Linked DNA regions of Homo sapiens: region 2 is linked to region 1. The links come from fine-mapping of genetic effects on gene expression. A gene starts in region 1. The other region holds a variant in brackets. All regions are shown on one strand. Distances are between the middles of the regions.

Evidence for each region. PIP is the estimated chance that this variant, and not a neighbour inherited with it, causes the effect.
Region 2: its variant is fine-mapped to the expression of PELATON in spleen (GTEx, PIP above 0.99). The same link has a PIP of 0.9 or more in whole blood.

Annotation. Positions count from the first base shown.
Region 1 is chr20:50,265,181-50,269,438 of GRCh38, forward strand. PELATON (plaque enriched lncRNA in atherosclerotic and inflammatory bowel macrophage regulation) reads left to right here and starts at 2,298. Exons shown (of 4, transcript NR_170992.1): 1 at 2,298-2,483.
Region 2 is chr20:50,274,350-50,278,607 of GRCh38, forward strand. It overlaps PELATON (plaque enriched lncRNA in atherosclerotic and inflammatory bowel macrophage regulation), which reads left to right. Exons shown (of 4, transcript NR_170992.1): 2 at 1,302-1,386; 3 at 3,142-3,264; 4 at 3,828-4,258. Among named protein-coding and RNA genes, the nearest start is that of PELATON, 9.0 kb to the left of the region's middle. RefSeq lists enhancers at 277-778, 779-1,278, 3,123-3,660. The variant G/A (reference allele first, on the strand shown) is at 2,196.

The sequences.
Region 1 (4,258 bases):
CACCGAGGCCTCAGCAGGCAGGTTTCATTACAGGAAAAACTGAGGTATAGGGGTTTGCAGGCCTAACGGGACACGCTGTCACTGTGATAGGAACAGCATTAGCAATAATAACAGCTGTCCTTCCGGACTGGTTCCCAAGGGCTAGGCCCTAGGTGAATAATAAGCCTTTTCTCGATCCTTTCTGCAGCCCGAGAGGAAAGCCCCATGCTATCCCCATTTCATAGATGGGAAAACTGAGGCTTGAGGACACTTTGCGGCCTCCAAGGGCTGTTCTCTTCATTCCTCCAGCAGAGTGGATATGAGACGGTGCAGGGTCTGGAATGTCTGGGCAGAAGGAAGAGCTGGAGCAAAGGCCTGGAGGCTGGAGAGCGCTGTCGGGGGGCAAGTGGGGCAGTGTCCCACTGCGGGGTTTCATCTCAGCTCTGCCATGTCTTGGCTACGTGACCTCTGACACCCTACTGGGCCTCTTTGATCCCAGACTCACCTGTAGAATGGGTGTGTGAGAAGAAAACCTTCTGGAGCGGGGTGTTGAGGAGAGAACAGTGCCTGACACATCATAATAATAATGCTGAATAGATGTTATTTTCATTCCTAACCACTTCCTCCAGGAAGCCCATCCTGACCTCTAGCTCCCAAAGTCACCTGGACTTCCTCCATCACAGACCTTGCCACAGTGTGAGAAACTGCCTCATCCACACACCAGCTTCTCACCTCCACCCAGACCCTCTGATTGGGACTCCCCTGAAGACTGTGTCCCCAGAGCCCAGAAAGAGTCCAGCACAGAGCAGCTGAGGGGGCAGGTGCTGGTGAACAGTGTCAATGAGCCCCTGCTACTCACCAAGCCCTTCACACACGGGTCCTTCATTTAATGTCTTTCTTCTCCTAGATAGAACCTTGGCTTTGCCAAGACCGGTATAGTTGCTGCTCAAGAAATATGTGAGGAAATTGTTGAGATGAACCAGCACTCAGGGGAAGGGAGGCTTTCTGAGGCTGGGGCCTTAGCAGGTGGAGCTCCTGGGATAATAATAATAAGAAAGATGCCTGGACGCGGTGACTCACACCTGGAATCCCAGCAATTTGGGAGGCTAAGGCAGGCAGATCACTTCAGGCCAGGAGTTCAAGACCAGCCTGGTCAACATGGTGAAACCTGGTCTCTACTAAAAATACAAAAAATTAGCTGGGCCTGGTGGTGTGAGCCTATAGTCCTAGCTTCTCGGGAGGCTGAGGCTGGAGGGTCAATGATTGAACCTGGGAGGTGGAGCTTGTAGTGAGCCGAGATCGCGCCACTGCCACTGCACTCCAGGCTGGGCAACACAGTGAGACTCTGCCTCCAAAAAGAAAGACAACAATAATCATTAGTCTTTACTCTGCTCCAGGCACCAGGCTGAGTCTTCTCAGTTCATCTCCCCAGCAGATTAGTTCTATTATTGTTTCCATTTCACAGATGGGAAAATCAAGGCACAGGGAGGGGAGGTGGCTTACTCCAGGTCACACAGTTAGTGAGAGGCAGAGGCAGGATCAAAGCCAAGCCTGTTTGACTGAGGAGCCCGCCCCGAGACCTTAACCACACAACCCCTCCCTAGAAGGAAGGTGCCACTACTGGACACATTTTGGAGATGGAAACCAAGGCTAAGAGAGTCAGGATGGCCTGCCCATGTCTGGACACAGAAACTGAGGTTAAGCAGGAGATGCCCGAGGCGGGGTCCCTGTCTCCTAGGCCAGCACCCTGAAGAAGGGGTGGGAGACAACCCCCCACCCCCCAAGCTGTCCCCTGCTTGTTGGAGTTTCTGGTCAATACCCTGGCCTCTGTTACCCAGCCCAGCACCCAAGACGCTGCCTCTTCCGCCTGCCTGGAGTCTCGGGTGCCTTCACAATCGGATTCTCTGTCTCTGCAGCTGCTTTCCATTTGAGCCCTTTGTGCTGAAAATAAAAAAAATGAAAAGAAAACTTGGCACCACCCCTCTGCTTTGCTTCCTGGGGAGGAAGGAGGATCCCAGCTACTTCTTTCCCTCATTCTGGGGCCCAGAGATACCCACAGCCTGCCCGAGGTCACACAGCAGGGTTGGAGCCGGGACCCTGGCCTTAGACTCCCCTTCCAGTGCTCTACCCACTCTGGCCACTGCCTCTGATGTTCCTGGCTCTTCCTCTAGGCCCGTGAGGAGCAGAGAAATTAGGATGAATGTTCCCGAGCCCTACCACATGCTGGGCACTCTGCCATCCTGGGCTCACGAAACCCTCATGACAGCCCTGTGAGGTCCCGTCATCCCATTTAACCAACAAGGAAGCTGAGGCTCAGAGAGGGGAAGCGCCCAAGGTCACACAGCTGGGATGTGGCAGAGCTGGGGTTCCAGCTCCTGTTCCCATTGCTGGACAGCTGCCACATCTGGCACCCAATTTAGGACCCCGCGGGGAGGCCCAAGCCCCGGGGGTGGCGGGGGATCCTAGAGGAAAGTGGCAAGGCCAGGACCCTGGAGCAGAGCCAGGTAGGAACAATGGGTTCTCAGAGACCAAGGTGGCAGGGCGGGGCGGCTGCTGAGCAGGGGCGGCAGGGCGAGGTGGCGGGCGGGGCCCAGGAGACTTCATGCTCCCGCCTCCTACTCCAGCTCCCTGTTTGGGATCTGGGGACGCTCCAAGCACCTCAGCTTCTCAACCTGGACAGACCCACGGCTCCAGCAGGAGGCAGGGCCAGCCCTGTGTATAACCATAAATATAATGGGCAATAATCAGATTTCACGCTTACCGAGCCCTACTACAGGCCAGACACTGGGTCAAGGGTCCTTCCTGGGTCATCACAATCAGCCTAGGAGGTGCAATTAGGATTAGTGGCTTTTTACAGATGCGGAAACAGAGGTCCAGGGAGCTACTCAGCACCTGCTGTGCCAGGACAAAGAACTTTGGGAAGTGGGGCCCTCAGAGGGTGGGTACCCTGTTCCCAGAGGCAGGAAAGTTGAGGTGGACTGGACTCAGTGGGGCTCAGTGGGACACCGTGGGGAGTCAGTGCTCTCTGGGGGCGAGATGAATTAGAGGGAGCCCTTTTGGTTTTTTAGAATCTGAACATGGGGCGGGGGAAGCAGAGATGTGGGGAGCAGATGAAGCCTCCCTGGCACTGCTGGGAGGATTAAAGGACTTGATGGACACCCAGGGCTTGGAAATGTACCTGGTAGAGAGTAGGTGCTCAGGGAACAACTCCTGTTTGCAGAAACAGCAACTCACACTTAGGGAGCCTGCTGTGCATCTGAACCCCGTGCTTGGGTGTTTCTGACCCCCTTCCAGCTCTCATCCCTCCTCTCTCCATTTTCTCCCCTGTCTCAGGTTCATTCCTATGTTTCCTCTTGCCCCAATTAGGCCATCTTCTATGACTGCAACAGTAAAAATATTAATTAAATCTTATAACATGAAGTCTAACGTGGGGCCATTCCAGTGTTCCAGGGCAGGCTCCCTGCGCTCTAGGTAGGCATCTCTTCACTTCTCTTTCTTCATGGGCCCCAGTGCCTGCTGTGGCTCAAGACATCACGTCCCACATGATCACATCCTAACTAGGAAGAGATGAACAGAAAAGGGGACTTTCTCCTCCAGGATCTCACTTTTTTTTTTTTTTTTTTTTTTGAGACAGAGTCTTGCTCTGTTGCCCAGGCTGGAGTGCAATGGCACGATCTCGGCTTACTGCAACCTCCGCCTCCTGGGTTCAAGCGATTCTCCTACCTCAGCCTCCCACATAGCTGGGATTACAGGCGTGGGCCACCACTCCCAGCTAATTTTTTGTATTTTTAGTAGAGATGAATTTTCACCATGTTGGCCAGGCTGGTCTCAAACTCCTGACTTCAGGTGATCCACCCACCTCAGCCTCCCAAAAGTGCTAGGATTACAGGCGTGAGCCACCGTGCCCAGCCAACAATTTTTCTTACATGTCCCAGTGGATGTCCCCTGGTGTCTCATGGAATGATGGGCTCACATGTCCACATTTGAACCAGAAAGGAATTCCCGTGGCTGACTCAGGCCAATTAGGGTTCAGCCTGTCTGGCTGCTCCAAAGAGATGTGGGCTCCGAAGGTGATGGGGGCACGGCTGGGCTGGCCACCAGCTGGAGTCTCACTGACGGCCTAAGTGGCACAGTGGGCCTGGGTTTGCTCGGCCTTCTCTGGCTGGTCCTCTTGGCAGCGTCTGCCCCCTGGGTAACTGCCCCCTCCTTGAGCACAGTCTTCCCCAGCCTCTTGATGGCGGCTTGCTGGTCTCGCTGGTTCTCCTCTTACTTCCCTGCC
Region 2 (4,258 bases), 9.2 kb after region 1:
GGGGCCACGCTGGCCTCATAGGTGTGTCTGCGGCACCCAGTAGGTCCTCAGGTCTGCACTCCCCTGTTGTACCTCTAAATCTTCAAGTATAACAAATGCTGTTTGAAAATACCTTATGATGGTGGGCCGAGGTGGGAGGATCGCTTGAGGCCGGGAGTTCCAGACCAGGCTGGGCAACAGAGTGAGAACCCATCTCTAGAGGGGAAAAAAAAAGAACTAGCTGAGTGTAGTGGTGCACGCCTGTAGTCCCAGTTACTTGAGAGGCTGAGGTGGGAGAATTGCTTGAGCCCAGGAGATTGAGGCTGAAGTGGGCTATGACTGTGCCACTCCACTCCAGCCTGGGCAACAGGGCAAGACCCCCCATCTGTCTTAAAAAAAAAAAAAGGAGAAAAAGAGAGAGAGAAAATACCCCATGGCCTTGGTTTCCTTATCTGTGAAATGGGGATGATGATGACAAGCCCCCAGAGGGCTTCCCCGCACCCTGGCAGTGACTGACACAGAGGCCCTGAGAGCTGCGTGTTCCAGAGTCATGCAGCTGGTACATGGCCGAGCTGGTGGGGTTTGAACCCTGGGTGCCTGAGTCAGGGAGAACAGGCGGAACAGTTGGGCCAGGGAGGGGAAGGTGCTGCCCAGAGCTCCCAGTGACCTTGGACCCCACTTCTCCTTTCTGCCCAGTGTGCTCGGCACACAGGAAGCCTGGCGGGGCCTCCCTTGCCCATCCTGTCTGCAGCCGGGTGGACACGGGGTCCCGGCGTCACCCACCGCCACCCAGGCCTCCTCCTTCCTGTGTTGTGCAAGACGAGGCGTCCCCTGTGTGGAATGGGCAGGCAGCTCTGGCGATGGGTGGACGGGTGAATGGGGGCCTCTCAGGCGGGGTCACTGCCCGCGGTTACCTCTAGCAGGCCTGGCCTAAGCCTCCGCCCCTTCCTCCTCCTTCTCCTCCTCCTCTGTTTCCCCAAAGTTCAGGCAGCCTTAAGCAAGAGGCTGTGGGACCCAGGAAACTGGGGAGGTTGTCCAGCCACCATCTTGTCCCCACAGAGCAGACCTAGGCTTGCGCAGTCTTGGAGAGGTCCTAAACAACAACAACAACAAAACTATAATAATAATGATAATAGCTGTTATAGTGGAGTGGCTTCTATGCACCAGGCATGCTCTCATTTAACCACAAATACATAAAACGCACCTCCTATGTGCCACGTGTGATTCTCAGACCTTTACCTCATGTCCCATCGAATCCCCGGCAACCCTTGTGAAACAGTTTTTTTTTTGTTTTTTTTTAATGATTCCTTTCTTCAGAGTAGAAAACTGAGGCTCTGAGAGATGAAGCTACTTGCCAAGGTCACGCAGCACAGTCACATCCTACTGAACATCATCCTGTTCTCTGGGGTGAGTGCTGTCCTGGAAGTTGGGGGGCTCAGAAGCTGTTGGTGCCCACCTGGGAGGTCGCCCTTGCAGCTGCTATCCTGAATCTCTTGCCCAAGGGCTTCCTCTGGCCACAAGAGTGTGGGAAGCAAGTGAGAGACCCCTGCCAGTAGAGGTGGGGTCTGTTTGTCCCCCCACTCAGCTTCCTTGCTTCTGGCTCAGGGGACAGTGGGAAGGTACTTTCTGCGAGTTGTCCCAGAGGCCTCTAGGGGGTTGGGCTCCTGTTGCCCACTGAGGAGACCTGCTCATCTACCTTCCTTGTGTCACTTCCTCACTCCTTCCCAGTGTTTCTAGAATCACCTCCCAAATATCCCACTTGCACCCAAAACCTTGTCTTGGGTCAGCTTCTGGGAGCCGACCTAAGCCAGCAGCTATAATGCTCAGGGCTTAAGAGCTTTGGAATCAGATGGACCTGAGTGTGAATCCCGCCCCTGCCACTTAACCTGAGTGTGAACTTGGGAGCCTGCCCCACCTCTCGGAACCTCAGTTCCTCCATCTATGAAAAGGGAACTTACGTGCAGAAAACCAAGTGACTATGAGGGGGATGGGGCAGTGTGAGATGACGGGACCAGAGCACGTTCCTGGCTGCAGAGGCCACAAGTCACGCTGTCTCTGAGAGGTATGGGGACAGGGGCGCAGAGGAAGAATGATCGCGAGTCCTCAGCCCTGTTTGGCTGACGGGGGACAGGGATGGGTGGGAAAGAGGTACAGCGTTTTTCCACCTTCCCCACCCATCACCCCTGAGATTCCAAATGAACATCGGGACCAACCCC[G/A]GGAGCCCAGCGGATGTTCAGGGTAGGGCAAAGAACAGGTGCCAAGTTTGCTCCCTGGGGTGTGAGACTGGGCAGCCTCAAGAGCTGCATTGGTAGGACTTTCACCAGGTAGACAGCAGGCACCTCGCCCCTGCAGATCACAGCTTCCAGGGCCACCTGTCCACAGAATCCCTTCACTGATCTGTGCTTGAGGCAGGGGTGTGTGGACTGGGAGTCCTTCTTTTACTCTGGGTGGGGCCTCATGCTCAGAGGGAGCTCTGTCTACCCCCACCACAAACCTGCAGTTTCCCTGCTACAGCGATGGCAACCTCAGCCACCTGGCTGCCCAGGCCCCCAACCTGGGTTCTCCCTCTTGTTCCCATGGTCAGCCCATCAGCAAACTCATCCACATGTCCAAGGGTCCACCCCCACTACCCTGCCCTGCCCTGGTCCAGCTAGGATGTTTGCAGTCGTCTCCTCATTGGTCTCCCTGCCTCCTCTCTCGCCTTCCTAAGCCAGAGGAATTCTGTAAGAGCTCAAGTTAGATCCTATCCCTTCTCTGCTCAGAACCCTCTATGGCTCCCAACTCACTCAGAGCAGAAGCCCACAGGGCCTGCAGGATCTCTGCCCTGGCCCCGCCTGACCTCACTGCCTCTCCCTTCTCTGTTCACCCACAGCCACGGTGGCCTCATCTCTCTGCCATAAACTTGCCAATTATCCTGCTGCTGCCTCATTGACTTCGCACCCACTCTTCCCTCTGGAACAGAGGACACTCTCGCCAGCTCTCCCCATGGCGGATCCTTGTCTAGGGTCAGGCCTCTGCTCCAAAGTCACCCCTGGGGACACCTTCTCTGACCAGCCCCTCATTCCTATGGCCTCATGCTGTTTTTATTTCTTCCTAGGACTTAGCACGTATCCTAGAAATTAACCTGCTGGTATATCCTGTTTCTTGTCTGTCTCTTTCCAGTGGAATGTCACCATCGCCCAGGTGGGGATTTTTGTGTGTTTTGTTCACTGCTGTACACCCAGCCCCCAGCACAGCGCCTGTCCAGGACAAGTGCCCAGTAAACACTTGGGAAGCAATGCAAGCGTGCGTGCATGGATAAGTATTTCTTTGGCAGATGAGGGGGCTAAGGTTCAGAGAAGGCCCTGGGGGTCTCAGACTCATAGCCCAGTGCTCTTTCTGCTGACACGCCCTGGTCTCTGGGGCAGTTTGTTGCCTGTTCAGCAACAAAGAGGGTGTGCCTCGTTAGGGGTCCTGCGTGCGAATCGCAGTCCCTGCGTGTCTTGGCTGGAGGTCACCACCCTCTCTGCTCCAGGGCCTGTAATTACCACTTACCCTGGTCAATGGGTCCGAGAGATTACCCTTGTAGGCAGGGCTGTGGCCAGGGTGCTCACCTGGCCCCCAGCAGGTCCCATGGGCACTGTCTGGCCGGGCTTCATGGCTGACATTCCAGGTACATTTCTAGCCCTGGGCTGCCATGGGCAGAGGGTGGGGAGAGGGTCGTGGGCTTCAGGCTGGACAAACCAGTCAGCCTTCCCAGCTGGGCCGCCTGACCACCCACTTCCTGTGGGGCTCCTTGAGGCCTGGAGGGTGGAGGGGGTCTCTGTTCAACCCCCACCCATGCCCTCTTCCCTTCTCTCCCTCGGCAGGTCCTCCCAGCAGCTCCTGCAAACAGACCCCCGACCCAAGCCCTTCCTTCTGCCTCCACTGCCACCACTGCTGCTCATCTCTGCTGGCACAGAAGTCTCTTCCCTGGTCTTCCAGAAATCCCCTCTCCACACTCAGCCAGAGGGAGCTATTAAAACTGTGGGCCAGCCCACATCAGTCCACAGCAAAGTCCTCTCTAAGGGATCTCTGTTGCTTGGAGAATAAACCCTCGGATTCCTTCCTTGGCTCTCGGGGCCTCCTCTCTGACCTCCCTCTGTCTCCTCTCCCAGCCTTCCTCCTCACTCACCCTCCAGCCATGCTGGCTTCCTCCTTGCTCCTGAAACAGCCTGAGGCCCACACTGCCCCGGGCCCTTTGCACTGGCTGTTTCCTCTGCCTGGAACACTTCTCCTAGGCATCCACAGGGCTCCCTCC